Linked DNA regions of Homo sapiens. The protein of the gene in region 3 purifies or fractionates together with the protein of the main gene of each other region. This does not show direct contact. Each region holds a gene or a part of one and is shown on either strand. Other genes may lie near its edges. The genes, in order: SOX5, MTHFD1, NFIB, CPNE1, TBCA, GPC4 and EN1.

The links.
Region 1: the proteins of NFIB (region 3) and SOX5 purify together in Homo sapiens (co-immunoprecipitation; one large-scale study listed by IntAct). This does not show direct contact.
Region 2: the proteins of NFIB (region 3) and MTHFD1 purify together in Homo sapiens (affinity purification with mass spectrometry, with the first as the bait; one large-scale study listed by BioGRID). This does not show direct contact.
Region 4: the proteins of NFIB (region 3) and CPNE1 purify together in Homo sapiens (affinity purification with mass spectrometry, with the first as the bait; one large-scale study listed by BioGRID). This does not show direct contact.
Region 5: the proteins of NFIB (region 3) and TBCA purify together in Homo sapiens (affinity purification with mass spectrometry, with the first as the bait; one large-scale study listed by BioGRID). This does not show direct contact.
Region 6: the proteins of NFIB (region 3) and GPC4 purify together in Homo sapiens (affinity purification with mass spectrometry, with the first as the bait; one large-scale study listed by BioGRID). This does not show direct contact.
Region 7: the proteins of NFIB (region 3) and EN1 purify together in Homo sapiens (co-immunoprecipitation; one large-scale study listed by IntAct). This does not show direct contact.

What each region holds. Positions count from the first base shown.
Region 1 is NC_000012.12:23,540,671-23,544,170, forward strand, and holds part of SOX5 (transcription factor SOX-5), read right to left. Parts: intron 2,715-3,500; coding exon 2,541-2,714; intron 1-2,540.
Region 2 is NC_000014.9:64,387,029-64,391,152, forward strand, and holds the start of MTHFD1 (C-1-tetrahydrofolate synthase, cytoplasmic), read left to right. Parts: upstream 1-1,324; 5' UTR 1,325-1,399; coding exon 1,400-1,440; intron 1,441-4,124. UniProt on the Homo sapiens protein: Trifunctional enzyme that catalyzes the interconversion of three forms of one-carbon-substituted tetrahydrofolate: (6R)-5,10-methylene-5,6,7,8-tetrahydrofolate, 5,10-methenyltetrahydrofolate and (6S)-10-formyltetrahydrofolate.
Region 3 is NC_000009.12:14,153,642-14,157,141, reverse strand, and holds part of NFIB (nuclear factor 1 B-type), read left to right. Parts: intron 1-1,248; coding exon 1,249-1,317; intron 1,318-3,500.
Region 4 is NC_000020.11:35,630,401-35,633,900, reverse strand, and holds part of CPNE1 (copine-1), read left to right. Parts: intron 1-977; coding exon 978-1,106; intron 1,107-1,204; coding exon 1,205-1,384; intron 1,385-1,515; coding exon 1,516-1,590; intron 1,591-1,666; coding exon 1,667-1,738; intron 1,739-1,875; coding exon 1,876-1,956; intron 1,957-2,123; coding exon 2,124-2,213; intron 2,214-2,322; coding exon 2,323-2,409; intron 2,410-2,546; coding exon 2,547-2,633; intron 2,634-2,727; coding exon 2,728-2,787; intron 2,788-2,866; coding exon 2,867-3,000; intron 3,001-3,105; coding exon 3,106-3,160; intron 3,161-3,410; coding exon 3,411-3,462; intron 3,463-3,500.
Region 5 is NC_000005.10:77,706,840-77,710,339, reverse strand, and holds part of TBCA (tubulin-specific chaperone A), read left to right. Parts: intron 1-1,992; coding exon 1,993-2,098; intron 2,099-3,500. UniProt on the Homo sapiens protein: Tubulin-folding protein; involved in the early step of the tubulin folding pathway.
Region 6 is NC_000023.11:133,300,490-133,303,989, forward strand, and holds part of GPC4 (glypican-4 precursor), read right to left. Parts: intron 2,853-3,500; coding exon 2,677-2,852; intron 2,581-2,676; coding exon 2,378-2,580; 3' UTR 1-2,377. UniProt on the Homo sapiens protein: Cell surface proteoglycan that bears heparan sulfate. May be involved in the development of kidney tubules and of the central nervous system.
Region 7 is NC_000002.12:118,841,671-118,844,648, forward strand, and holds the end of EN1 (homeobox protein engrailed-1), read right to left. Parts: intron 1,585-2,978; coding exon 1,268-1,584; 3' UTR 501-1,267; downstream 1-500. UniProt on the Homo sapiens protein: Required for proper formation of the apical ectodermal ridge and correct dorsal-ventral patterning in the limb.

The DNA.
Region 1 (3,500 bases), on a different chromosome or scaffold from region 3:
GCCAAGCAGTAAAAGGTGATTCCTTATGTTAACAATTTCAGCAGAATGGCTTATTAAAACCAGATTTTAGGGTATTATAAAATGCTTAGAAGCCCTTTAAAATGTCAACTACGATCCCCAGAGACTACGTAAAATGTCAACCCAGCTCAAGCGCCTGTTTTAAGCAGAATGAATTAGCGGCATGCTGTCGGAGGCTGTTATCCAAAACAATCAGCAAAGAGGAAAACATCAAGCTTTCTTTGTACTTTTGTATGAAATGGGTCATTTAGAATGATCTTGTGGATATTTGAAGATCACTTATTTATTTAAAGCTGTGACTAAATATTGAGCCCAAAATACCTCAATGTTTTATTTGTTCCTAAATATAAATGTTATATCTTTAAAGAATACATTTTCATCAGAAAGACTGAAATTAGGCAGTATTCTCTTTCATGTTGTCTATTATAATATAATCATATGGTCATTCTAATATTCTTTCCCTCAAATCAGAAGGGAATTCTCATAGCCAGTCATCTCTTTTCCATAGATACTTTTGCTACATTTCCTAAAATATCATTTCTTATCATCAAAACTGATATTTCTCTTATAGTTAAGATAGTTTTAATTAATGATTATCACCTTTTTGGTATTCAGACACAAGAATTGAATAATATAAAGACAGTTTTGAAATCTTAGTATTTAACTTGGTTTTTATTCTGACAATTTTGGATTTCTAATTTGGGAATAACTGATATATTAAAACATGAAATATGCTTACATAAAGTATTCTTTTCTAGAGTTTTCCCAAATGAAACTGGTATGTTGTTTTTTAAAGATAGGAAATTTCACATGGAAGGTAGAATATAGTCACAAAAAATATAGTCACAAAAGGGAAAAATAGATCAGAGCTGGTAGAGATGTAAAAAAATGTGTATTTCCTCTTGATCAGTTCAAGTTTTTGATTATGCATGATATATATTTTTACACACAGATTTTCATATTTTCTATGTATACTACTGAAAGCTTTGCATGTTCATGTCTTTTTAGATAACATTTAGGTGAAAAATGAGACACAATTTTAAGTGGCTAATGGTTTGTTTTGATCCCATTACAAATGCACCTTGTGGACTAGGTGGCATCTATTATCTTTGTTGAGAATATGGGATCATAAAAACATACGGCCGGGCGTGGTGGCTCATGCCTGTAATCCCAGCACTTTGGGAGGCCAAGGTGGGCGGATCACCTGAGGTCAGAACTTCGAGGCCAGCCTGGCCAAAATGGTGAAACCCTCTCTCTGCGAAAATACAAAAGTTAGTTGGGCATGGTGTCCCGCGCCTGTCATCCGAGCTACTCAGGAGGCTGAGGCAGAAGAATTGCTTGAACCCGGGAGGCGGAGGTTGCAGTGAGCCGAGATCACACCACTGCACTCCAGCCTGGGCGGTAAAGCGAGACTCCATCTGCAAAACAAAACCTCATGCATATGTTTGCCATTTATAGATGATCTGTAATGAATCAAAAGTGATACTATTTTTATAAACTCCGTGTAATTCCAAGTGCCTTACGAATTCTAATAAAACTTTAATAATTTTGACAAATTTTGTTACTTATTTGTTAAAACCAACATTTTCTGATAAAATGTTTCTATTCTATTTTTGTCACTTAACTCTTAGAAGTCACAGAGTGAATCATCAAAATTTTCTTAGGTTGTCTAGTATCTGGCCATCAGACAGTGATGAATGACAATGACAGTGATAATGATGTCAGATAAGGCACAAAAGCAATGGAATCTTCTTTTTTTCTTTTTCCCCCTGGGACCTGAACTGGTCTATAATAGGTATCTTTATAATCAGCACCCTTTCTCCCCAACCATTTTTCCTGTGTGCTACAGTCTCTGTGTGGGTAGAGTAAATGCGTACTTTGTTTTCTGTTCAATTGAATGTTGCAATGGCAGAAAAGTATTTAGTATGACTAAAAGTACCTTTAGTACTTAAGGTTACTAAAAGTATAAATGTAAAAATGTACACTCTACATCTTCTTGTGTTCTGAAAATCTAAAACTGATTTTCAATTATAGCACTGGAACAAACATCTTCCCCACCTCCACCCTCACCCCCACAACAAGATGAATTCCGCAAATAAAACTCCTTATCCTTCTGTTACAGAGGATGATGAGAGAGGAAGGAGGCCTTAAGATTAACAGTAAGTTGTCTATAGTATGCAAGGAAATGAATACAAATGATCAGTAGCAATATCTAGTGGCTCATGTGAAAGCAACTTTTTTCTCAGCTTTAGTAAAAATATTTCTAGATTTTTGAAGAAGATAAAGCATTAAAATAATTAGTATGAAGACAAACAGCTACATGAGCTATAGAAATATGGCATATTTCTCAATGGACATAGAATGCTTCATCACCAGAAGAAGCCTCAATGATGATGTTTATTTTCTGGATAAGCAAATAACACGACCTGTATGGCCTCCAAATCCAGGATCCTTCCACAACTGCAGAAAACAGAACAGTACCTTTATTCCATACGTCACTTAGTTCTTAATGGTTTTCTTACCCAATATCTTGCTGATGTTGGAGTTGTGCATGTCAGGAAAGGCTTGAAGGATCTTTCTCCGTTCATCTTTAGCCCACACCATGAAGGCATTCATTGGACGCTTTATGTGGGGTTCATTGCTACCACGCCCTCGGGATTCCCTATAAATTCTTGACTCTGAGACTCCAGCACTTCCTGAAAACAGGAAACATCACTTCGTGTTAGCGTTAAAACTTTTGTCAGCTCTTTTCCTTGCATTCCTATTTTTCAGTCTATTAAGATATCTGAAAAGAAAAAGTACTTCTGATAATGGTACTTCCAGTTCTTAAGACAGATGCTTGTTTATGAAGTTTTTCTGATAAGCCTTGTGGTGGCAAATGTTATATTTGTATTTTTAACCAATTTCTAATCTGTTTTCTCTTTCTTTCAATGGACTGTTTCACCATTTACTTTCAACAGCTCAAAATAAACTCCGATATGTGATTTTTGATGCAATTCGGAAAGAGGATAGTCAGATTAAATCAACAGGCATACCAGTAGTGTAGAAACATTAAATAGGTAAAGAAGCACAAATCAATTTGGCAGAATGGATGATTATAGGGGAGGATATATCTTTGCTACTTAAAGACTGTCTGAACATATAGTACCTTATGTTCTCTTTCTCTCTCCGAGGTTACAAAAATAAAAACACTGACCAAATTTTGAGGTTAAAAACAATATAGGTATTTCCCTGTAATATAATTGGCTTTTCTTTGAAATTATATGCTGACAAATGCATGACATATGCTGATACAGCAATGACAGGTCTGCCCCCCAAAATATATGTAAAACTGGTATGGAAAAGAACAAATGAACAGTTACATTCCTCTAGTTTCTTAAGGAGTCTACAGTCACATGTTTAAGATGAGAAAAATAATAATTTCCTTTGAATTTTCCCCCTAATATTTAAAGTTATCCAAAGAGTCCCATGGACAGTCACAT
Region 2 (4,124 bases), on a different chromosome or scaffold from region 3:
GTGGTGCCTGTAATCCCAGCTACTCGGGAGGCTGAGGCAGAGAACTGCTTGAACCCGGGAAGCGGAGGTTGCAGTGAGCCAAAATCGTGCCACTGCACTCCAGCCTGGGCGACAGAATGAGACTCCGTCTCAAACAAACAAACAAAAAAAGTTTTAGATGAGCTCTGCCAGTAGTAAACGGCTTGTAAAAGAAACCCGGTATCTGGTCAAGTCCTAAGTGACCTGAACCACGCATCTTCAGGACTCTACTGGGATGACTGTAACCTGAACGCGGTTCCTAGAGCAGAGCAAGCATATTCCTTGGACTCAGTAACACAAGGGGCCAGTCCTCTCCAGCATCCCAGCTGCCACCGCCCTGTCAGGCTCCCCAGGCAATTGTCCATCTTACTCCTTCTCCAGCGTGGACGCTTAAGGGGAGGGAGCATCCCTCCTCGAGGGTCAACTGGCATGTAGCTTACGAAGACCGCGTGAGTTCTCCAACCCCAGACTTGCTGCGGGGCGGGGACGTGGGGGTGACAAAATCCAGACTACGACCCTCCATGAGCCCTGGCAACCCCGGGGTGACCCCAACACCGATGAGGCCACGCGCGCTCCAGCTCTGACACTCCTTCCAGATCGGCGGGGCCTGAAACAGCGGGCTAAGCTTCACCTACGGCTGAGCGTCAGATTCAGCTGAGGAGATTCTAAAAGCGCTATGCTGGGCCCAGACCCAGGCCCTCCAGAGCAGAACGCGGAGGGGCCCGACCCCAGTCTGGTGGCGTAGGTGTGTGACAAAGTATGAGGGCGCGCCAAGCTCTCCAGTTCCACATCTGCTGTCGAGTCCAGCGCCTGCCACGCTCCCGTGCGGGGACCCGCCCAAAACTCCCTGGAAGCCAGGCGATTCAGACCCCGCCACCGCGTCCCCAGAGACTGGGCGGAAACCGGAGACTCGCCTCCCGAACCCGCGAAACTATCTCCCGCGAGACTGCCCCGCCCCAACCCCGCCCCGCAACTCTACTCCCTGATTGGCTGGAATTACGGCCGGATTCCGGAGTCCTTTCCAGCTCCCTCTTCGGCCGGGTTTCCCGCCGAATACAAAGGCGCACTGTGAACTGGCTCTTTCTTTCCGCCAATCATTTCCGCCAGCCATTCATCACCGATTTTCTTCATCTTCCCCTCCCTCTTCCGTCCCGCAGTCCCCGACCTGTTAGCTCTCGGTTAGTTAAGGGACTCGGGTCCTTCCGAACTGCGCATGCGCCACCGCGTCTGCAGGGGGAGAAGCGGGCAGGGGCGCAGGCGCAGTAGTGTGATCCCCTGGCCAGTCCCTAAGCACGTGGGTTGGGTTGTCCTGCTTGGCTGCGGAGGGAGTGGAACCTCGATATTGGTGGTGTCCATCGTGGGCAGCGGACTAATAAAGGCCATGGCGCCAGCAGAAATCCTGAACGGGAAGGAGATCTCCGCGTAAGCACCTGACATTGTTGTTGAGTGTGGGGCTGTGGACGAGGGCTCTGAGGGTGTGCAGGTCCCCCGGACCCATTTTTTGCGGGAGGGACACTTGTAGCGGAAGAGTTAGGCCCATAACACCTGAAGACCTGCAGCCAAAGAAAGAGAACCCGGGCACAACCTGCGTTTGCAAGTGGACTGCCTAGTGGCTGTAGCCGCTGGCTCCTGTGCTTCGGGGAAAAGTCCTGTGCCGACTATGCTCCCAAACGCGCAGCTGCTGGTGACTTTCTGCCGGGAGAGTGGGTAGTTGCGGCTTCCTGGAGCCCCCCTAGTCAGAACTCAGAAATCCAATCTACTTAATTCCCGTTAATTTGGAGGTGAGTAGATGGAGACTAGTGAGGTGACAAGGCTTGACAAGACTACAAGGCTGATAATGACAGAGGGTCCTTCCAGCTCATAGCTTTTCCCACTATACCATAGTCTTATCATACGCTAAGTGAAATCTAATACATTTTTCCTTTCTCTTCAATCTCGTGCTTCTCTCTAACAGCCATCTCTCTGCCCTGGTCCTAGAGTTACTTGAAACGTAATTTGGCTCCTGAGTCCTGAGAATATTCTGCATTCCACTTGACCTCTGCCTGTTCTACCCTTGCGGGACATCTGAATGCTTAATTAGTGGGTATCGTTGCCAGCTTTACTCCCAGGAAGTAACACTGGCTGCTTTTTGTCTGGGAGGTGACTGGTGAGGAAAAATGAGAGTAGAAGGAAGAGGGAAAAATATATTCCCTCTAGTAGATGAAGGAGGGAAAGATATATTCTGTGTGACCTTACTGAGTTTGCTCTTGGGACCTTTCACATCACCCGTTATGTAAGTAACTGTTGCCAGCCACAGCAGTTACTAAATTGTAATTGTCCTGTAACTCCTAACTTTGTAATAGGTTTTTGAGTGAATTACAAAGTCATCGGTGGTGAAAAGTCCGGGCCCAGTGGCTCATGCCTGTAATCCCAGCACTTTGGGAGGCCGAGGTGGGTGGATCACCTGAGGTCTGGAGTTCAAGACCAGCCTATCCAAAATGGTGAAACCCCATCTCTACTAAAAATACAAAAAATTAGCCGAGTGTGGTGGCAGGCATCTGTAATCCCAGCTACTTGGGAGGCTGAGGCAGGAGAATCACTTGAACCTGGGGGGCAGAGGTTGCAGTGAGCTGAGATGCGCCATTGCACTCCAGCCTGGGCAACAAGAGCGAAACTCCGTCTAAGAAAAAAAAAAAAAGAAATCACAATACTTACTGCTTAGTGCTTTTCAACATGTGGCTTGCTAAACTGTATTTCTGCTTTACTTTCTGTTTTTGTTTGCTTGTATTCAAACTTACTTCCTTTTCCAGTGGCTTTTTGTTTTAATATAAAAATCTTCCTTTTAGAAAGACTGATTGTGAAGAGATAATTTAGTGCATAATAATAGTGCAGATAATTTAGTACAATAATAATGCATCTGGGCCAGTACTGAGAATAGGTGCTCACTGAATATACTTTCGTTAATTGGAGAGCAAATTAAATATGTTTATCAACTCCATAAGGGCAAATACATGTATTGTCTTATTTTTGTCTATATCCTAAACACCTGGAAACCCTGTTTCCTGCCTTACTACTTGTGTGGTTTTAAGCAAATTAATTAACCTTTCTGTGCCAAAGTTTCCTCAAATGTTAAGTAAAAGTAATGTCTAGGTCATTGGGATGTTAGTAGAATTAAATGGGTTCCTAACAGATGATCATTTATAATTCTTCCTGGCACATAATAAGTATTCGATATATGTTGTATTAATAATCAGTAATTAGTTAATGTATATATGAATGATTCATTATCTTTTTTTTTTTTTACATGGTAGCTGCTGCCTTGAGATCTATTTTTTTTTTTGAGATGAAGTCTTGCTGTGTCCAATCTTGGCTCACTGCAACCTCTGCCTCCTGCATACAAGCAATTCTCTCATATCAGCCTCCTGAGTACCTGGGATTACAGGTGCCCGCCATCACGCCTAGCTAATTTTTTTTTTTGAGATGGAGTTTCACTCGTCGCCCAGACTGGAGTACAATGGCGTGATCTCGGCTCACTGCAACCTCTGCCTCCTGGGTTCAAGCGATTCTCCTGCCTCAGCCTCCCAAGTAGCTGGGATTACAGGCGTCCGCCACCATGTCCAGCTAGTTTGTTTGTTTGTTTGAGACAGAGTTTCACTCTTGTTGCCCAGGCTGGAGTGCAATGGCATGATCTTGGCTCACTGCAACCTCCACCTCCCAGGTTCAAGCGATTCTCCTGCCTCAGCCTCCCGAGTAGCTGAGACTACAGGTGTGTGCCACCCCGTCCGGCTAATTTTTGTATTTTTAGTAGAGACGGGCTTTCACCATGTTGGTCAGGCTGGTCTGTAACTCCTGACCCCATGTGATCCACCCACCTCGGCCTCCCAAAGTGCTGGGATTACAGGCATGAGCCACTGCACCGGTCCTAGAATTTCTTAAAAATCCAGCCCACTTCCCACATTCCATCCTGCGGATTAGGAAATCATTTGAGGCCAGAAAAGTGATGTGATTTGTCCAAGGGTGAATGGCAATGGCTCAACTAAAACTAAGGTCTTCACCCAGTATATGATGTTTTTCATTCTAACCAGCACTTACTACTTGCTAAAAGGAATTTCGTAAGCTTTTCTTTT
Region 3 (3,500 bases):
ATTTTTATCTCCAGTAGTAACAACTCTATAAGATAGGTGATTTTTATTGTCTCCAATTTGTTAAGTGAGGAATCTGAGGCAAAAAGAGGACTAATAACCTAGCCAAGATTTCATAACTGGTCATCTGTGGCTAGGATTCAAATCCCAGCTCTTTGATTTCAGTGCTCCATGTTGCTGCACTACCCATGCTTCACATCTCTGAACTGCATCTAATTCCTTGGTCAGCCCTGAAGCTTTATGTAAAATCCAGTCAAATTGCCAGTTCTTAGAATCTAGTTTTGTTTGTTTGTTTCTCAGATGTATTTCAATTCTGAGGATTTTCAAACTTATTCTCACCCTAGGACAGAAGCAAGTAGGCCATAACCTCCCCTGCTAAGGTATTCCTCACACTCATTACACCCCCTTAACATAGATGAGAATGGGGTGGGCTGGGTGCAGGGTTACTGTTGTTTGTGGGAGTTCTCATCTCTAGTTTTGGACATAGACCAGCTAGCAAGCAGGCTCCATGGCCACTGTGGACCCTGCCCCGGTGTGACTTAAGGGTCATGTGGCATTCCCAGAGGCCTGGATTCACCACCATTTGCCAGAAAAGTTGTCTAATTCTTGAAATAAAAGGAGTCCAGTGGAATAGTAGCAAGGGTGAGGAAAGCAGTGAAATCGTGCAACGTATATTAAAGATGCCCAGAAATAGGTCAACGCAAAGTTCTGTATTTGCTGTATATACAAGTTCTGCTTTTTATGTTATTAGTGACCCTGGAACAAGGGTCGGGGTGCTGGTAACAGCAGTTCACTTTTCTTTCATCAGAGAAGGGTTTACAAAAGAACGGTGGCTTTAAGAGATCTTTGACATTATTCCAGCAAGGTGCTAATTGTGGTTGTGGTTTCCTTTTTCTTTCTTTCATTTTTCGCTTTAGTCTACCAGGTGCTACCGAGTCAAAAGCATTCACTGAGAGCCCACAGACCATTCTGTATGCATGGGCCATGGCAAATCAAACCGCATCAATAAACCTGTACTTTTAGAAAGGGAAGAAAAAATTTTCCTAAGAGATTATTTGGTATCTAAACTTTTTATTTTTGTTTAAACAAACCTAATTTGCATTCCTAAGAGTCATTTTTTAAAGTCCTTATTGTAAGCATATTTGGTTTTTGTTCAAACCATTGGCTTTAAAACACTTAAATTCTAGTGTATAATCATTTATTTTACTTTCTGCTTATATTGATCATTTTTCCTTTAATATTTATTTTCAGGTTACCTTGAGGATAGTTTTGTAAAATCTGGAGTCTTCAATGTATCAGAACTTGTAAGAGTATCCAGAAGTAAGTAAATTGTTTTGTTACTACTTAAGCATGCAGTATGATTTAAAATACTTTATATTTTGAACCTTAAATGTAGTATAAAGAGTGACCACATATTAGGAAAATTTGAATTAAAATCTTAAAACCTTTGATGAAATAACAATATATTTTGCTTGATTTTCTAAAATGTTTGCATTCAAATCATCAAAACTTTTTGTTGTACAAAAATAATTTTGGGGTTTTTCTGATTGCCATGTTATTGGTATTCATTTAATTCACTGTTCTCTGCATGACCATAGATGGCCATTTATATCAAAGGAAGTGTGATTAATTAAATGTACTCTATGTTGTTATGATAACCCACATAAGTTTCCTGTAGATAAGTGCTTTTTCATTTTACTAACATTTTGGTGGGGGTTGGAGATGCACAGGATATACACACTAACGTGCAGAGTGTAGAGGGATGCAGAAATTAACTTTGCAGATTGTAGTTGGATATAGATAGAAAGCATTGTTATCCAAAACAATGTCCAATTGTTTTAACTGGCCACTTCACCTGAGACACCATTCTTAGCAGGCTGGATCAGATTTTTCTAGGCTAAGCTCACCTGGCAGGCTACCTAAGCAAAGGGGACGTTACCTTGATTAACTCTTTTACTTATTACTAGCATGTACAAACATATCCAAGATGCAGATCTATATGTACTAATTATGTTAAAGAAGGTGACTCCTTTCTTCATACTCCCTTCACTGATTTAGCTTATTTATGTAACTTTGAAGGGTATATTTTCACCTGACATTTTGATAGAATGCATCACACTTCGGAGTGATGTTATTCAGATGATGTAGTCACACTCTGATACCTGCCTAAGTTGTGTTTCTCATTTGGGTCATATTTAGAGGTCATGAATAAGAATTATGATGATCCAGAAAGAACAAAGAGTAATCGAGTTACTGAGGATAAGAATAAGCAGTGTTTTAGAGTCTTGTTGTTCAGTAAAGGAATCTTCACGCTATCACTGACTGTCTTTTGAACCGTAGTTCCTCAAATAGCTCACATTTCTAAAGTGAACAGTGCAAATAGCATGTATAGCAGGGAGTGATACATATGAACGTTTAAGATCTTAAGTAGTTTATCCTTTCTGGTATAATTCTAGAGTGGATAAATGTATGCCCAAAAGACTTCTCTCATGGGTCTTTTTACATGGTGGCAGTGTAGGAGAAGAAACACAAATATCCTGTATTCTGGTAGCCCCAGGGTGTGTATTCGATGGGCAAGGAGATTGTCCAAGGCAGTGTACCTTAATGTGTTTTTCCAGATCAATATGTGATATCCAAAGGTATCCAACATTTGAAAGTTTTCACTTTTAATTTGGGAAGAAATATGCCTGACTTACCAGTAGCACTTTGTAGCATCAGGTAAGACAGGGGTTATCTGAAGGGGTGTGTGTGTCTTCCCCATACTCTTCTTTAGCGGAAAGGCTTATGGTGCTCCAGTTAGGAGGCTTATTAAATTATTTGCTTAAATTTGTACTTCTCTGAGTTCAAGTTCAATGGTATATTTTCATCCTTCTTAGGAGTAGGGCAGTAGAGTCAGCTGTCAGAAAATATTTATTTAGTACCTCATGATAGGTAATATTATGCTAAGGGCTGTCAAAGGAGAACCACATTAGAACCTTCAAAAGCCCAGATAGATATTTTGAAAAATCTGAATTTCAAACATTAAAACAAAGATGAAAATTATCTTTCTAGAACAGTTCAAAACCAAGGTAAATTTAATATACTTCATTCATTCATTCTTAACTTATAATGTCATATCCTAGAAACTTTTAGGTTATTTGTTATAACAAACATTACTGATTTGTAATTAGCACATTAATTATCTATATTCATTACGTAATTTATTCAGCAAACATTTATTTTCTCCTCCATATGTAAATAGGTGTCTCTGAAAGGCCTGATAAGTTCTCCTCCTAAGTGTTTTAATATATCCGCATCATAATCTTTGTTTACACAATTAAACTTCATTATTTATGAAATAGGGGTTTGCTAAGTAAACATAAACTTCAGCACAACACTATGTGTGTATCACAAATTCTGACTTCTTGAGGGTTTACAGTATGCTAGTGCTTTCAGTCCTCTAGGGTTTTACAATCATAAGACCCACTGATGTGTATGTTGACTTTAGCTAATGAAGCCATTCA
Region 4 (3,500 bases), on a different chromosome or scaffold from region 3:
TGCAACCTCCACCTCCTGGGTTCAAGCAATTCTCCTGCCTCAGCCTCCTGAGTAGCCAGGATTATAGGCACACGCCAACATGCCTGGCTAATTTTTGTATTTTTTTTTTTAGTAGAGACGGGGTTTCACCATGTTGGCCAGGCTGGTCTCAAACTCCTGACCTCAAGTGATCTGCCCACCTTGGCCTCCCAAAGTGCCAGGATTACAGGCATGAGCCACTGTGTCCGGCCTCACTTATGTTTTAATAGGATCGCCCTGATTGCTGTATTTAGAATAGCCTGTTGGGGTGGACATGGGGGAACGGAGGTGGAGACAGCATAGAATAAGGGAGACCAGTTGAAGAGGCTAATGCTGTAAGCCAGGTGACAAACAGTGATGGCTTAGATTGGGCAGCAGCAGTGGAAATAGTGAGGAGTTGAACATTAGCAGTAGAGGTGAGGAGAATTAGTAGGGGGATCATAACTCCACCACAAGAGTTAGATCCCCAGGGTTAGTGAGAAATTATTGGAAGAAGATAATTTGTGGAGGATATTATCTGGATCATAGTTATATTTGGGGTTATGTTAGGATCAGAACTTGGATTAGGGTCTGGCCTGGGGCCAGTAAGGGGGTCAGAAAGATTTATTGGTCTTTGCAAAGACCAAGATTAGAGTCTGGGTTTGGACAGCCCTATTGGGATTAAGACAAATTTTAGGGTGAGGATAGTTTGGGGTCACAGTTGTAGATGGAGGCTAGTACCCCTTTTCAATATCTTCAGACCAGGGTTGGTTGTATCTGCCATCTTCTGTGCCAGTGAGCTCACCTAGGGGTGGAGGGGTTTGGAGGCTATGAGGCCTTCTCTTCCTTGGGTGTCACGGGGGTGGACGTATGCTCAGCCCTGCCTGGGTGATGCCTGCTGGCCTTCCCAAGCTGGGACCTGTAGTCGGGGAAGGGGAGAGAAGGCTCCCTGGTGCTTGACCCAGCTCCTTTTCCCTCAGATGGCCCACTGCGTGACCTTGGTTCAGCTGTCCATTTCCTGTGACCATCTCATTGACAAGGACATCGGCTCCAAGTCTGACCCACTCTGCGTCCTTTTACAGGATGTGGGAGGGGGCAGCTGGGCTGAGGTGAGGCGGATTATGGAGGTTAAGGTTGTGGAGGGAGGCTAGGATTGTGTTTTGGGGTGGAGGCTGTGACTGTGATGCTTACTGGCCTCTGCCCACAGCTTGGCCGGACTGAACGGGTGCGGAACTGCTCAAGCCCTGAGTTCTCCAAGACTCTACAGCTTGAGTACCGCTTTGAGACAGTCCAGAAGCTACGCTTTGGAATCTATGACATAGACAACAAGACGCCAGAGCTGAGGGATGATGACTTCCTAGGGGGTGCTGAGTGTTCCCTAGGACAGGTATGTAGGGCTGGGGATTAGGATCCTTCAGATGCAGGTCTGTGAGACAACCTAGCCTGCCTGGAGGTAGGGGGCAAGCAGGACCTAACCCTGCCTGTTATCCTGAAACTCCCTTCCCTGCTTTTCCCCAGATTGTGTCCAGCCAGGTACTGACTCTCCCCTTGATGCTGAAGCCTGGAAAACCTGCTGGGCGGGGGACCATCACGGTAAGGAACCCAGCAAGGGTTGAGGAGGGACTTAACATCAATGAATTCATGAGGTGATGTAGTCTCCCCTACCTAGGTCTCAGCTCAGGAATTAAAGGACAATCGTGTAGTAACCATGGAGGTAGAGGCCAGAAACCTAGATAAGAAGGTGTGTCTGGAAGTAGGCCCTGGTAATCCAAGAGTTAAGGGGCCAAGGATGGTGTATGGGGGATGGGGGTGTGGACAGAGGGATGGCATAATGGTTGTTTGTTCCTGAGTCTTGTAACTGGGGTCTCGCATTGGCAGGACTTCCTGGGAAAATCAGATCCATTTCTGGAGTTCTTCCGCCAGGGTGATGGGAAATGGCACCTGGTGTACAGATCTGAGGTATGAGACCCCTGGGATTGGGTGGGCTGGGGTAGGAGATAATCTCCTGGGGCCTGTGACTAGCAAGGTTTGGAACTCAGAAAGAGACTGCAGGTGGGTAGAGAAGTGTGGCAGCTCCTCAGGGGGCCATGCCAGAGCTCACTGGAGGCCTTGGCCTCCACCTTCAGGTCATCAAGAACAACCTGAACCCTACATGGAAGCGTTTCTCAGTCCCCGTTCAGCATTTCTGTGGTGGGAACCCCAGCACACCCATCCAGGTGAGGAGCTTGCCCCCTAAGTGGACTGCGCTGGAGAAGAGAACCTGGGGAGGGACTTATTCTCATCTGCCACCTGGCTTGTTTATGTCCACACACACCTTTCCCTCAGGTGCAATGCTCCGATTATGACAGTGACGGGTCACATGATCTCATCGGTACCTTCCACACCAGCTTGGCCCAGCTGCAGGCAGTCCCGGTGAGTGCTGGTCTTGCCAGGGGTGTGGAAATGGGCCTAGATAGCTGAAGCTTGTGGGAGAGAGGAAGGAGAAGGCAGCTCGAGTCCTTGACTGATGCTCTGAGAATTTCCTACCCTAATTTTTCTGTCCTCACCAGGCTGAGTTTGAATGCATCCACCCTGAGAAGCAGCAGAAAAAGAAAAGCTACAAGAACTCTGGAACTATCCGTGTCAAGATTTGTCGGGTGAGACAAAAGCCCATGTAACCAAGGCTCTGATTCCTGAGCTCCATGACACCAACTGCTATCACCCCAGGCATGACCCTGGTTTCATTTGCAGGTAGAAACAGAGTACTCCTTTCTGGACTATGTGATGGGAGGCTGTCAGATCAACTTCACTGTAAGTTACTTTACCAAGGGCAAGAGAACAGGTCTGGGGCTCAGGGTGGCCTTTAGCTGCCTTCCTCACCTCCTCCCAGGTGGGCGTGGACTTCACTGGCTCCAATGGAGACCCCTCCTCACCTGACTCCCTACACTACCTGAGTCCAACAGGGGTCAATGAGTACCTGATGGCACTGTGGAGTGTGGGCAGCGTGGTTCAGGACTATGACTCGTGAGTACCTGCTTCTCTGGGCTATACCCGCTCCCTGCAGATGCTTCAGCCTCTGAGCTTACAGTCCCCTCACTGCCTTTTGCCCAATACACTGTCCTCCCACAGAGACAAGCTGTTCCCTGCATTTGGATTTGGGGCCCAGGTTCCCCCTGACTGGCAGGTGAGCTCCCTCTCTTTCTGCCACTCCTGTTTTCAGTTTCAGGGTCCTGATTTTGGGGGATGTGGTAAATTTACTTGCTACTTGGCACTCAGCTTTAAGAGGAGATGCAGGGTTGGATTCCTGCAGGCACGTAGACAGCAAGTGCTCAGGACTCCATAGCTCCTATAGGAATCTTGGCACACGCCAGTGTCCTTTTTCATTCTTAGCAGAGGTCATGGGGAAAGAACCTCATTTTCATTCTTGTCTCCAGGTCTCGCATGAATTTGCCTTGAATTTCAACCCCAGTAACCCCTACTGTGCAGGTAAGTTTCCCCATCCACCCTGAGGCAGGTCTGTCCAC
Region 5 (3,500 bases), on a different chromosome or scaffold from region 3:
AAATTATTGCTAAAACAATTTTAAATTATAAATCAAATGCAGATTTCTGTATCTGACATTCACATGTTTCTGTTGTCATGCTTGAATGTATCAGTACTTGCAGCTTTCCCCTGAAGCTGACTTTGTGGTCACAGCTTTTTTTTCCTTTTTGCCAACAGCTTTATTGAGATATAATTCACATACCATACAATTAACCCATTTTAAGTCTACAGTTTACTGGCTTTTAGTAGATTCACAGAGTTGTGCAACTATCACCACAATCATTTTTAGAACATGTTTCTTACCCCCAAAAGAAACCTTATACCCTTTAGCTATCACCTTTCCAATTCCCCTGTTGTCCCCAGTCCTAAGCAACCACTAATCTACTTTACGTTTCTATAGATTTGCCCGTTCTGGATATGTCCTGTAATAAAATCATACAATATGTAGCCTTTTATGTCAGACTTCTTTTTTACTTAGCATGTTTTCAGGGTTCATCCATGTTGTGGCTTGAATCAGCACTTTATGTTTTTTATTGCCCAATATTCTGTTTTCTGGATATACCACATTTTCCATTGATTATTGGACTTCCACATTTTGCCTGTCTTGCATAATGTTGCTGTAAACATCCATAGACATGTTTTCTGTGGGCATATATTTTTATTTTTCTAGGGTATGTACCTAGAAATGGAATTGTCAGGACATATGGTTACTCTGTTTAACTTTTTGAGGAATAGTTAAACTTTCCTAAAGCTACTATACCAATTTTGATTGCCATCCAGCAATGTTTGATGGCTCCAATTTCTCTGCATCCTTGCCATCTTGCCAACAGCCAGATGGAGAAAGCTATTTTTATTACATATGTGCTATGAAAGCTTTTTCTTCTGCTCTTTAGATACTGTGTATATAGGAATGTTAATATTTTCTTAGACTATACTTTTATATTACAACTTTAAACAACCAGAATTAGGGAAGATTGAGCTATTATGATTAATATAATTTGGATTATCTGTGGGATAATCAGTAGAACTTTGTATTGCAGTATTTCTTATTGTTGAAACTTTTCCTGATGTACTTCTTTTAAAATACTTTTTCTTACTTTAGTAAGTAAATACTAGTTTGTTTCCACCACTTGTCTGTGACAGAACTGCATCTATCCCAGCTCCTTGCACAAGGAAAGTCTGGCATAAAATTAAACGCACAATAAATACTTGTTAAACGATTTTGTTGTTAAAAAATAATCCAGTCTTTCTTTGTTTTGGATTTGACATGCAATCTACTGAATTTTCCCCTGCCAGTAAACTGAGCTTTTATCATTGTGCTGTTTCAGATACATGTATAAAGGTTTGGAAGACATATTTAAAAAAAAAAAAAAAAAGACAGTTGTATTAATATATATTGGTATATACTAATTTTGAGTATCGCTTTCACATTGTAATTATAATATACTGAAGTGGGTTTTTAATTTAAAAATTAAGAATTTCATGCTTTGGGCCAGGCACGGTGGCTCATGCCTGTAATCCCAGCACTTTGGGAGGCCGAGGCTGGTGGATCACAAGGTCGGGAGATTGAGACCATCCTGGCTAACATGGTGAAACCCCATCTCTACTAAAAATACAAAATATTAGCCGGGCGTGGTGACGGGTGCCTGTAGTCTCAGCTACTCGGGAGGCTGAGGCAGGAGAATGGCATGAACCCGGGAGGCAGAGCTTGCAGTGAGCCAAGATCTCGCCACTGCACTCCAGCCTGGGAGACAGAGCGAGACTGTCTCAAAGAAAAAAAAGAATTTCATGCTTTGATAGATTGCACTTACGTTAGGCAGGTATAGGACTTAAGAGCATGAGGATCATGCTTATATTTATGACTAAACTATTTTTCTTCTGTTCCTTCCTCCCCCCATCTAGTATATCTACTTTGGTATTTTAAATATAATATGTTTTATATTTACACAGTTTCTTTCTTATGGTCTGGAGAGAAAGCTAATTTTCTAAAACATTTTTGGCTTTTTTATAGGTTGGTCAAAGAAAAAGTGATGTATGAAAAAGAGGCAAAACAACAAGAAGAAAAGATTGAAAAAATGAGAGCTGAAGACGGTGAAAATTATGACATTAAAAAGCAGGTAAAATTATATCATAAATAACAATAGCTAACATTTACAGAATGCCATATTAACTAATGTAGTTTTTACAGTAGTCCTCTGACTGAGATTATATTATTATTTACTTCTTTACTATTAAAACTTCCATTTAAAGATAAGGAAACTCAAACACAGGTTAAATAACTGCGCAAATCACATAGTTGTTAAGTGACACAGCTGAGGTTTTGTTTTGTTTTGTTTTGTTTGAAACAGGGCCTCACTCTGTCATCCAGGCTGGAGTGCAGTGGTGTGATCATGGCTCATTGCAGCCTTGACCTCTTGGCTCAAGCAATTCTCCCACCTCAACTCTCTAAAGTGCTGGGATTACAGGCATGAGCCACCACACCTGGCATAGCTAAGATTTGAACACAGGCATTCTGGCTCTAGTATCTGTACTCTTAACCGCTAAATTCTACTGTCTTTTCCAATTTTAAGTATCAGATATAAAAATGGACTAATCTTATATTAATTATATATTTAGATTCACAAATATTGTCTCCACACTGATGTGAAGACTACAAAAATAAAATACGCATTGCACTTTTCAATGGCTACTTGTGATTGTCTTCATGACAAATTTCAGTGGCCTTAACATTGCATACAAGGCTCTTCTTGATTTTGAATCAAGAAATGAGGTTACATCTGCTTATCTAACCTCATTTCTTACCAATCCCTGTCTCAACCTCTTAGGTGCCTTATAGCTCCCTGAACATGCCCTTTCTTCTTTGCCTCTGAAATTTTGCATGTCTGGGATGCTCTTACTCCTGGCCTTACCTACCCTCTCCTTATTAATTTCTGTTCTTCCTTGAGGTCTCTTCTACTCTCACCTCAAACTGAGTTAGGTGCCCCTCCTTTTTGCTCCCATAACACTTTCTTTATTCCCATGATAGCATATATTGAACATTCATTCTCAGCTGACACTTGCTTCATAATTCCTTGAGAAAATAGAGGCCGTTAGGGAACTTTCTCATATTCTTACGACAAAATCTGTCAACCTATCTGCATCTGTACCTGTACCACTTTCCTTCCTGTAAGAGTGGACTATGTGCCCTAGCCCTTGTTATAACTATCAGTGACATTGTTATTACTCTTTTTTCCCTCATCTTAAATACCTCAATAGCATCTGACACAAGTTACCACTTTCACCTTGAAACTTGACATATCCTCTGAGGTGTTCAAAATTAAAATCTTGATTTCACACTACTCCAACCTACTCTCCCAAACAAAAAACAATTTCTTCTTTCTTTTTCCTCATCTCAGTGAATGGTACCTCCACTCATCCAGATACTCAGGTCAAAAATTTAGTTGGTCCCTTCTTGATATTTTTATCTCTTTCTCATAACCACATCTAATATCAGCATCATCTCCTATTTCTTTTTTTCTT
Region 6 (3,500 bases), on a different chromosome or scaffold from region 3:
GGGAGTGGGGGTGAGCTTGCCAGCTGCTTAGAAGCCAAGAGTTATCCAGTCAGACCTGAATGGAAAAATCTATGATTTGTTTATTTCATAGTTGAAGTTCAAAAGCAAGAGACAATTTAAATAATAAAAGAGTAACAGGAAAAAATGCAAAGAAAGAAAACAAATCAGTAAGAGTTCAGAAGAACCTTCAAGAATACTTAATTTGGAAAATGTTATTGGTTTAGAGAATTTGACTGGAAGAAAACAGCTGGGCAGAGTTCAAGGTTTTAAATTAAAAACAATCTAACAAGGTCTATGGGGATAACTCTCTGAGCCATATTTTGGAGACCAGATTCATTTCTACCAAGTAAAAGTAATAGCAGTCTAAGCTAAAAAGGAAATTCCTCACAACTGAGGTAGTTACTAAGTATCAGCACATTTTCCAAGTTCTCACAAGGCCCCTTAGCTATTTACAATCTATTTTCCCTTATATATAAATGGAGTGCCTTTTCAATTTTATGTCTTCTGATTTGTTTTAAAAAAAAAACCACTTATACACACCAGCCAGAATATGCCTATTTTATTAACATCATGCTTTAATAAATAACTGGCTACTTCTAATAAAATTAAGCCTCTGTTTACAACAGCCCCCAATATTCCATTTTGACCACTCTGCAGAATTTGGTGTAAAAAGTTGAATGAAATGTAGACCCTGAGCTATCAAGTAATTATGTTTCAATATAAAAATAGAGAATTACTCTTACAACTGAAGATTGAACAATAACACAAACAACCTCTTTGTGGGTTTTAGGTTCGGTAAAATTAGTTGGGATCTTAATGGCTGTCTAAAGCAGGAAGAGACAGAATTTTAGTCTTTCTGAAGACTTCTGGGAACTCCTTTGAAAGTGATTTGTTACATTATCAGAGTTTTATGAGCTATCATTTGGTAAGGACACAAGGAAGGGATTCCCAAGGCAGTTGTTAGTCTTTGGCCTGGGACAACAGATATGGCCATGGCCTTTGCCACTTCACCCACGTGGCTAAAGGTCACCACTAAGATGTAGTATTCTCAGCTCTACCTACTCCCACCCCACCCCATCCCCCAAGAAAAACAACACATACAAAAATCTGGACACCTAGTTCTCCCCTAAGTGGGCTCCTTGGCTGATATCTTGGATCGTAGCACATTGCTGTGAACCATGGCAAGTCCTTTGTTTTACTGATAAGAGGGGGCTAGGTAAGAAAAAGACTCAAATGAGACACCTTATACTCTCTTAAAACAAAAACTGGGATCCCAAAACAAATGGAGATACACATGCACAGACAAAAACTTTGCCCGAGTGTTGACAGCTATTCCCTGAGCCCAGGCTGTACCCCAGTTCTGGCTAGCTCTCAGACAGCTCCCTGTACATAATTGGGTTTGAAATCTCGACCACTCTAACAAAGGATATTAATTCAAATAGGGTCAGTGTGAACATGAAAACTAGCACAGGGTGGGCTAGCTAACCTGCCTGGTTTTAAAAAAAAACACCCCTAAACCCAAGTGTGAACATGTGATAACTGGGACATCCTGAATGCTTTCTATCTTTCAAGGGGGATGATATCCAGAATCTTTTTCTAAATGGGTTACATTTTATGTATAAGTGGGTTCAAGAAATGGACCTATAGTGATCTTAGCTTATGTAATTCAACTCATTCAAAGCAGTAGTCTGCAGTCTCTTCCAACTATCACCAATAAATGAAGTACACATAACCTCCTTCTTGGATTGATGCTTTGAATACAATCTGACAAGTGGCTCAGAAGCCTGCTTGTGCCCTCACATTCTGTCTTAATAATAATTTAAAAAAAAGAAAATCACCTCCACGTCTCTCCAGATAAGGCAACTAAAATAACAGGGAGAAATGGAAATTTTACTGCTTTTTGGGCTTTTTCTTTTAATAAGATAACATGATAAATAAAACCTGCTTCTGTACAGCTATTTAATATTTCAGAAATACGTACATGTTACGTGCCAAGAAGGGACCCTGGTTTGCTTGTAAGAAACAAGGCGAGATCACAGTTGGAAAAAAAAACCCACAAACGAAATGAGAAAAAAACATACAAACAAATAATAGAGTGATAAAATCACAAATGCACAACTAACTATAGTTCTGTACCTACACTGTTAGCCACGTTTAACATGGTTTGGGGGAGCAGGAACCAACTCAATGCACAGTCCCTTTTCCTCCCAAAACTGAATGAGAAAACAAAGTCAGCACTTCTTAAACCAGTGGCCACATAGTAAAAACTGTACATTGTTGTCCATTCATTTAAAAAGCAAAGTCACTAGGATGGTAGAAAAGTGATAACTGGTGCCTTTTAACTTTTTGATGAACACTTTTTCTCAGAGTTTGAGAATTATCTCCACTCTCTCTGCATAACCAGGAACAAGATGCAGAAGACAGTGAGGAGGTAGGCCTGTGCCCCAGGACGGACACCAGCACTGTCGGCTTTCTCATTGGCACTCTTCCCAGCATGGTCAGTGGCATTGTAGTCAAACTCTGAAGGGCACTGCTGATACTCACAGCCACTTCCACTTCCTTCTCCACTACTTTCATCACCTAGTTTAAAAAAAAATGGAATAGAAATTTCATTCCACTTGTTCTCATCAGAAGACATACAAGAGCAATTCGTACTTTCAAACCACAAATGCTTACTGATATCAAAGAAGTCCACGTCGTTCCCATTGTATGCATTCTTCATCTTGCTGGTCATCACTCGAAGAGCCATGATTTGACGAAGGATCAGTATGTCTGGTTTGCTGGTGTCAACCTGGACCTCTGGGTTGTTGCCCTGGTTGGCTAATCCATTTCCTGTCACTGCAAACAGGTACCTGGAATGTAAAATGACCCCAGTAAGATGATTCGTAAAGCGAAAAGATTTTATCTGTCTGCCTCCCAAAGTGCTGGGATTACAGGCGTGAAGATTATGAAGATTATACAAGAGGTTATCAAATACTTCTGCTAGATTCTAGTATTTCCACTAAGCAAAATTAGATGGAAGTTCTTTAATTCCTAATGAACTCTAATCTTTCTTGTTCCTGTGGATTCCTCATTTCTCCAATTTGATGGAAACCTTCTTCAAAGCTATCACAGCACTTTTGGAGGCTAAGGTGGGTGGATCACTTGAGGTCAGGCATTCGAGACCAACCTGGCCAACATAGCGAAACCCTGTCTCTACTAAAAATATGAAAATGAGCCGGGTGTGGTGGTGTGTGCCTGTAATCCCAGATACTCAGGAAGCTGACACAGGAGAATCACTTGAACCCAGGAGGCGAAGGTTGCAGTGAGCCAAGGTTGCACCACTGCATTCCAGCAGCTGAGATTGCAGTGAGGTTGCAATGAGCCAAGATTGTGCCACTGAATTCTAGCAGGGTGACAGTGATACTCTGTTGGAGGAAGGAAGGAAGGAAGGAAGGAAGGAAGGAAGGAAGGAAGGAAGGAAGGAAGCTAGCTATCCCTCTTGAGGAGGATGGTGGGTT
Region 7 (2,978 bases), on a different chromosome or scaffold from region 3:
TCCAGGCGGCCAAGAGGCCAGGCCAAAGTGCCCCTCGCCCAAGCGGGCTGTCGGGGAGGGAGGAAGGCAGGCCCCCTTCTATCTCTGGATAAAAAAAATCTGCAGCAAAACCTGCACCAGGGGAAATAAAAGAAAGAAAGAAAAAGAAAAGTGCAGGTTGGAGTGAAAAGCAGTTTGTACAGGAGGAGGCCGCCACTGGGCTGGGCCTGGACCGGTGCGGGGAGCTGCCCCGCAGCCCAGGCAGCGTTTCCGAAGCCAGGACTGTGGTTGTCGGCCTTTGAGTTCCCTTGAACGCAATCGGAGACCAGGCGTGTCCCGCCAGACCCTTCAGACCCAGGCTAAACCCAAATCTGGGTCGCGCTTCCCCTTCGCCCTGCATTCGTTGTGCGGTGATCGCAAGGCCCGGCCGGCTCCCCGCCCGGCGTGCGCAGGGGCGCTGGGGCGCTGTGTGCCCGGACCCACGTCCTTCCCGAGCCCGCAAACAGGAGAGCCGCCAGCGCTCGTGAGCACAGTGTACACTTTATTTCAGACTACAGGTTTCTGAACATAATAAAATCTTTGGCTTGTAGCGGCGGTTCAGTCTCGCAGTCTGTGGGGTCGTATTTCTCAACAAGTCTCCGGAAAACGAAAGGGGGGCAGAACAGACAGACCGACAGAAGGGACCCGGGAGGTGGGGGAGAAGAGGTGGGCAGACACGAAAGGAAACACACTCTCGCACACAAAGAAAAGTCCCAGAGAAACCAGGGCCGGCGATGCGGGTCGGGAGGCACCGGAGAAGCAATGACATTCAAATGAAAAAGGCAACGAAAACGAAACTGGGCGGGGGCAGCGAGGCGGTGGGGGAGGGGATAAAATAATTATAATAATTATAATAATTATAACAATAATAATAAAGGAGATTAATAAAAATGTCCAGCAAATAGAGATCGCTACACGTATGTGTTTTCCTTACCTGAAATTAAATATATACAAGGTCGTAAGCGGTTTGGCTAGATAGAGCTTTAAGGAGTTCGCAGTTTCGTCCCTTATACTGGGAATAGAGAATGGATCTTATTTTTCGATAGCACCTGTCCGAGTCTTTCTCCCTTTTCAAAAATGCTGCGTTTCAACGTCATTGTCCATTCTGAGGCTCTCTTTCTGTCTCTCTCGCTCTTTTCCCTGCGCTCCCTCCCTCCTTGGAGCAGATGCTTTCTCCCCCAGCGAGGGGCCGGGAGACGACGGCGGCGGTGCCGGGAGGGGGCGCGGGCGCGGCCCCGGCCTGTGGCGGCTACTCGCTCTCGTCTTTGTCCTGGACCGTGGTGGTGGAGTGGTTGTACAGTCCCTGGGCCATGAGGTGCAGCGCCAGGCCGTTCTTGATGCCTGTGGCTTTCTTGATCTTGGCGCGCTTGTTCTGGAACCAGATCTTGATCTGGGACTCGTTGAGGCTGAGTTCCTGGGCCAGGGTCTGCCGCCGCTGCTCCGTGATGTAGCGGTTTGCCTGGAACTCCGCCTTGAGTCTCTGCAGCTGCTCGGCCGTGAACGCGGTCCGCGGCCGCTTGTCCTCCTTCTCGTTCTTCTTCTTCTTCAGCTTCCTGGTGCGCGGACCTGCAGCGGCGGAGAGGGCCGGGGTGGGGTGGGGGTGGGGACCGAGGGCAGAAGGGAGGGGGGAGAGGGCAAAGGAAGCCGTGAGAATAGCATTGCCGAGCTGGGCCGCGAGCCCCGCGCTTCCGGGGCGATCTCGGAGGCCCTGCTGAACCCCTGGCTCCCTCCCGCCAGCCAATCCCTGGATCGAAGTGCCCCTCACCAGACCACTGGGGTCCCCGGGTTCCCTTTGGGAGGGCAAAGGAGCAGTGAAGGAAAGCTGGTTGAGGTTGTAGGTGCACCCCACACCCCAATTCTCACAGGACAGTCAGGGACAGACCGAAATCACAACATTTCCAAGCCAAGAAGGCAGGAATCCAAGATGAGGAGATATTTGGAGCTCATATGGCCCAGCCCAGAGTTGGGGGTCAGGGGCCTGCTGTCCTCACCGCCCCGGAATAGATAGGACTGGGGCAGTGAGGGCAGGCCCTGGGGGAGTCGCCAGCCTGCAAACAAATCTTCCTCTCCTCCTCAAGAATCATACCTACAGGAGAAACTACAATAAGACCCCATCTGCTTGTAGCTATTGACCTCAGAAAACAACGGGATAGTGAGCCGGCTGGGAGAGGGCTGCTTAGCTCCAAAGTATTTGGTGTCTGCCCCCCTCCCCGCACCCCTCCCTCCCACACACACCTCCTCGCCTTCTTTCTCTTTGGCCTAAAGGAAGCCTTTTCTAGGGTCTCAGGGATGCAGGGACCACCCCTTCTCTGAAGGAGAAAAGGCCCTGATCCATCCTCATGACCCTGGCTCTGGGTTTTCAGCCTTGCCCCTTGGATGGTGCCAATAAGAAAGGGAGGGCCTTCCACATTCCTCTAACCGGCTGCGTGGGGCAGGGTCTCTCTTATCTGGGTCTTCCTTATCTCCCCTTTCAACTGATGCAATTTCAGGATTAAAAACTCCTGAATAACAAAAACAAGCCGGATTGGCTTTCTCTGCCTACTGATGACATTTGCAAGGAGACTGCAGCCCCTTCCCCCACCTATGAGCAAAAAGGAGAGGGAGGGAAGCAGGGACAATCCAGAAAAAAAAAAATGTGCTTTGACCACCAGATAGGAATGGGAAGGGGCCACAGGAAACCTCCTTAGGAAGGTGAAGTTCCCCTCAAATACTAGTCTGGGAGGAGGGCCCACTGAGAAAGGAGGGAGGGAAAGCGGGAAAACCAGGAGAGGATTGAACTGTTGGTGTGTGCCTCAAAAGCCTGCACCTCTGCCCACCTGCTTCCACACCCAAGTCTTCTGGCATTTACTTGCTGGGTCCTGCCTTGGATATGGTAGCTTGCTGAACCAAGTTAAGTCCCTGTCAGGCCTGTTCATCTCTAAAACTGTCTGGAAAGAAGGATCTTTGCCGGCATCTCCAAA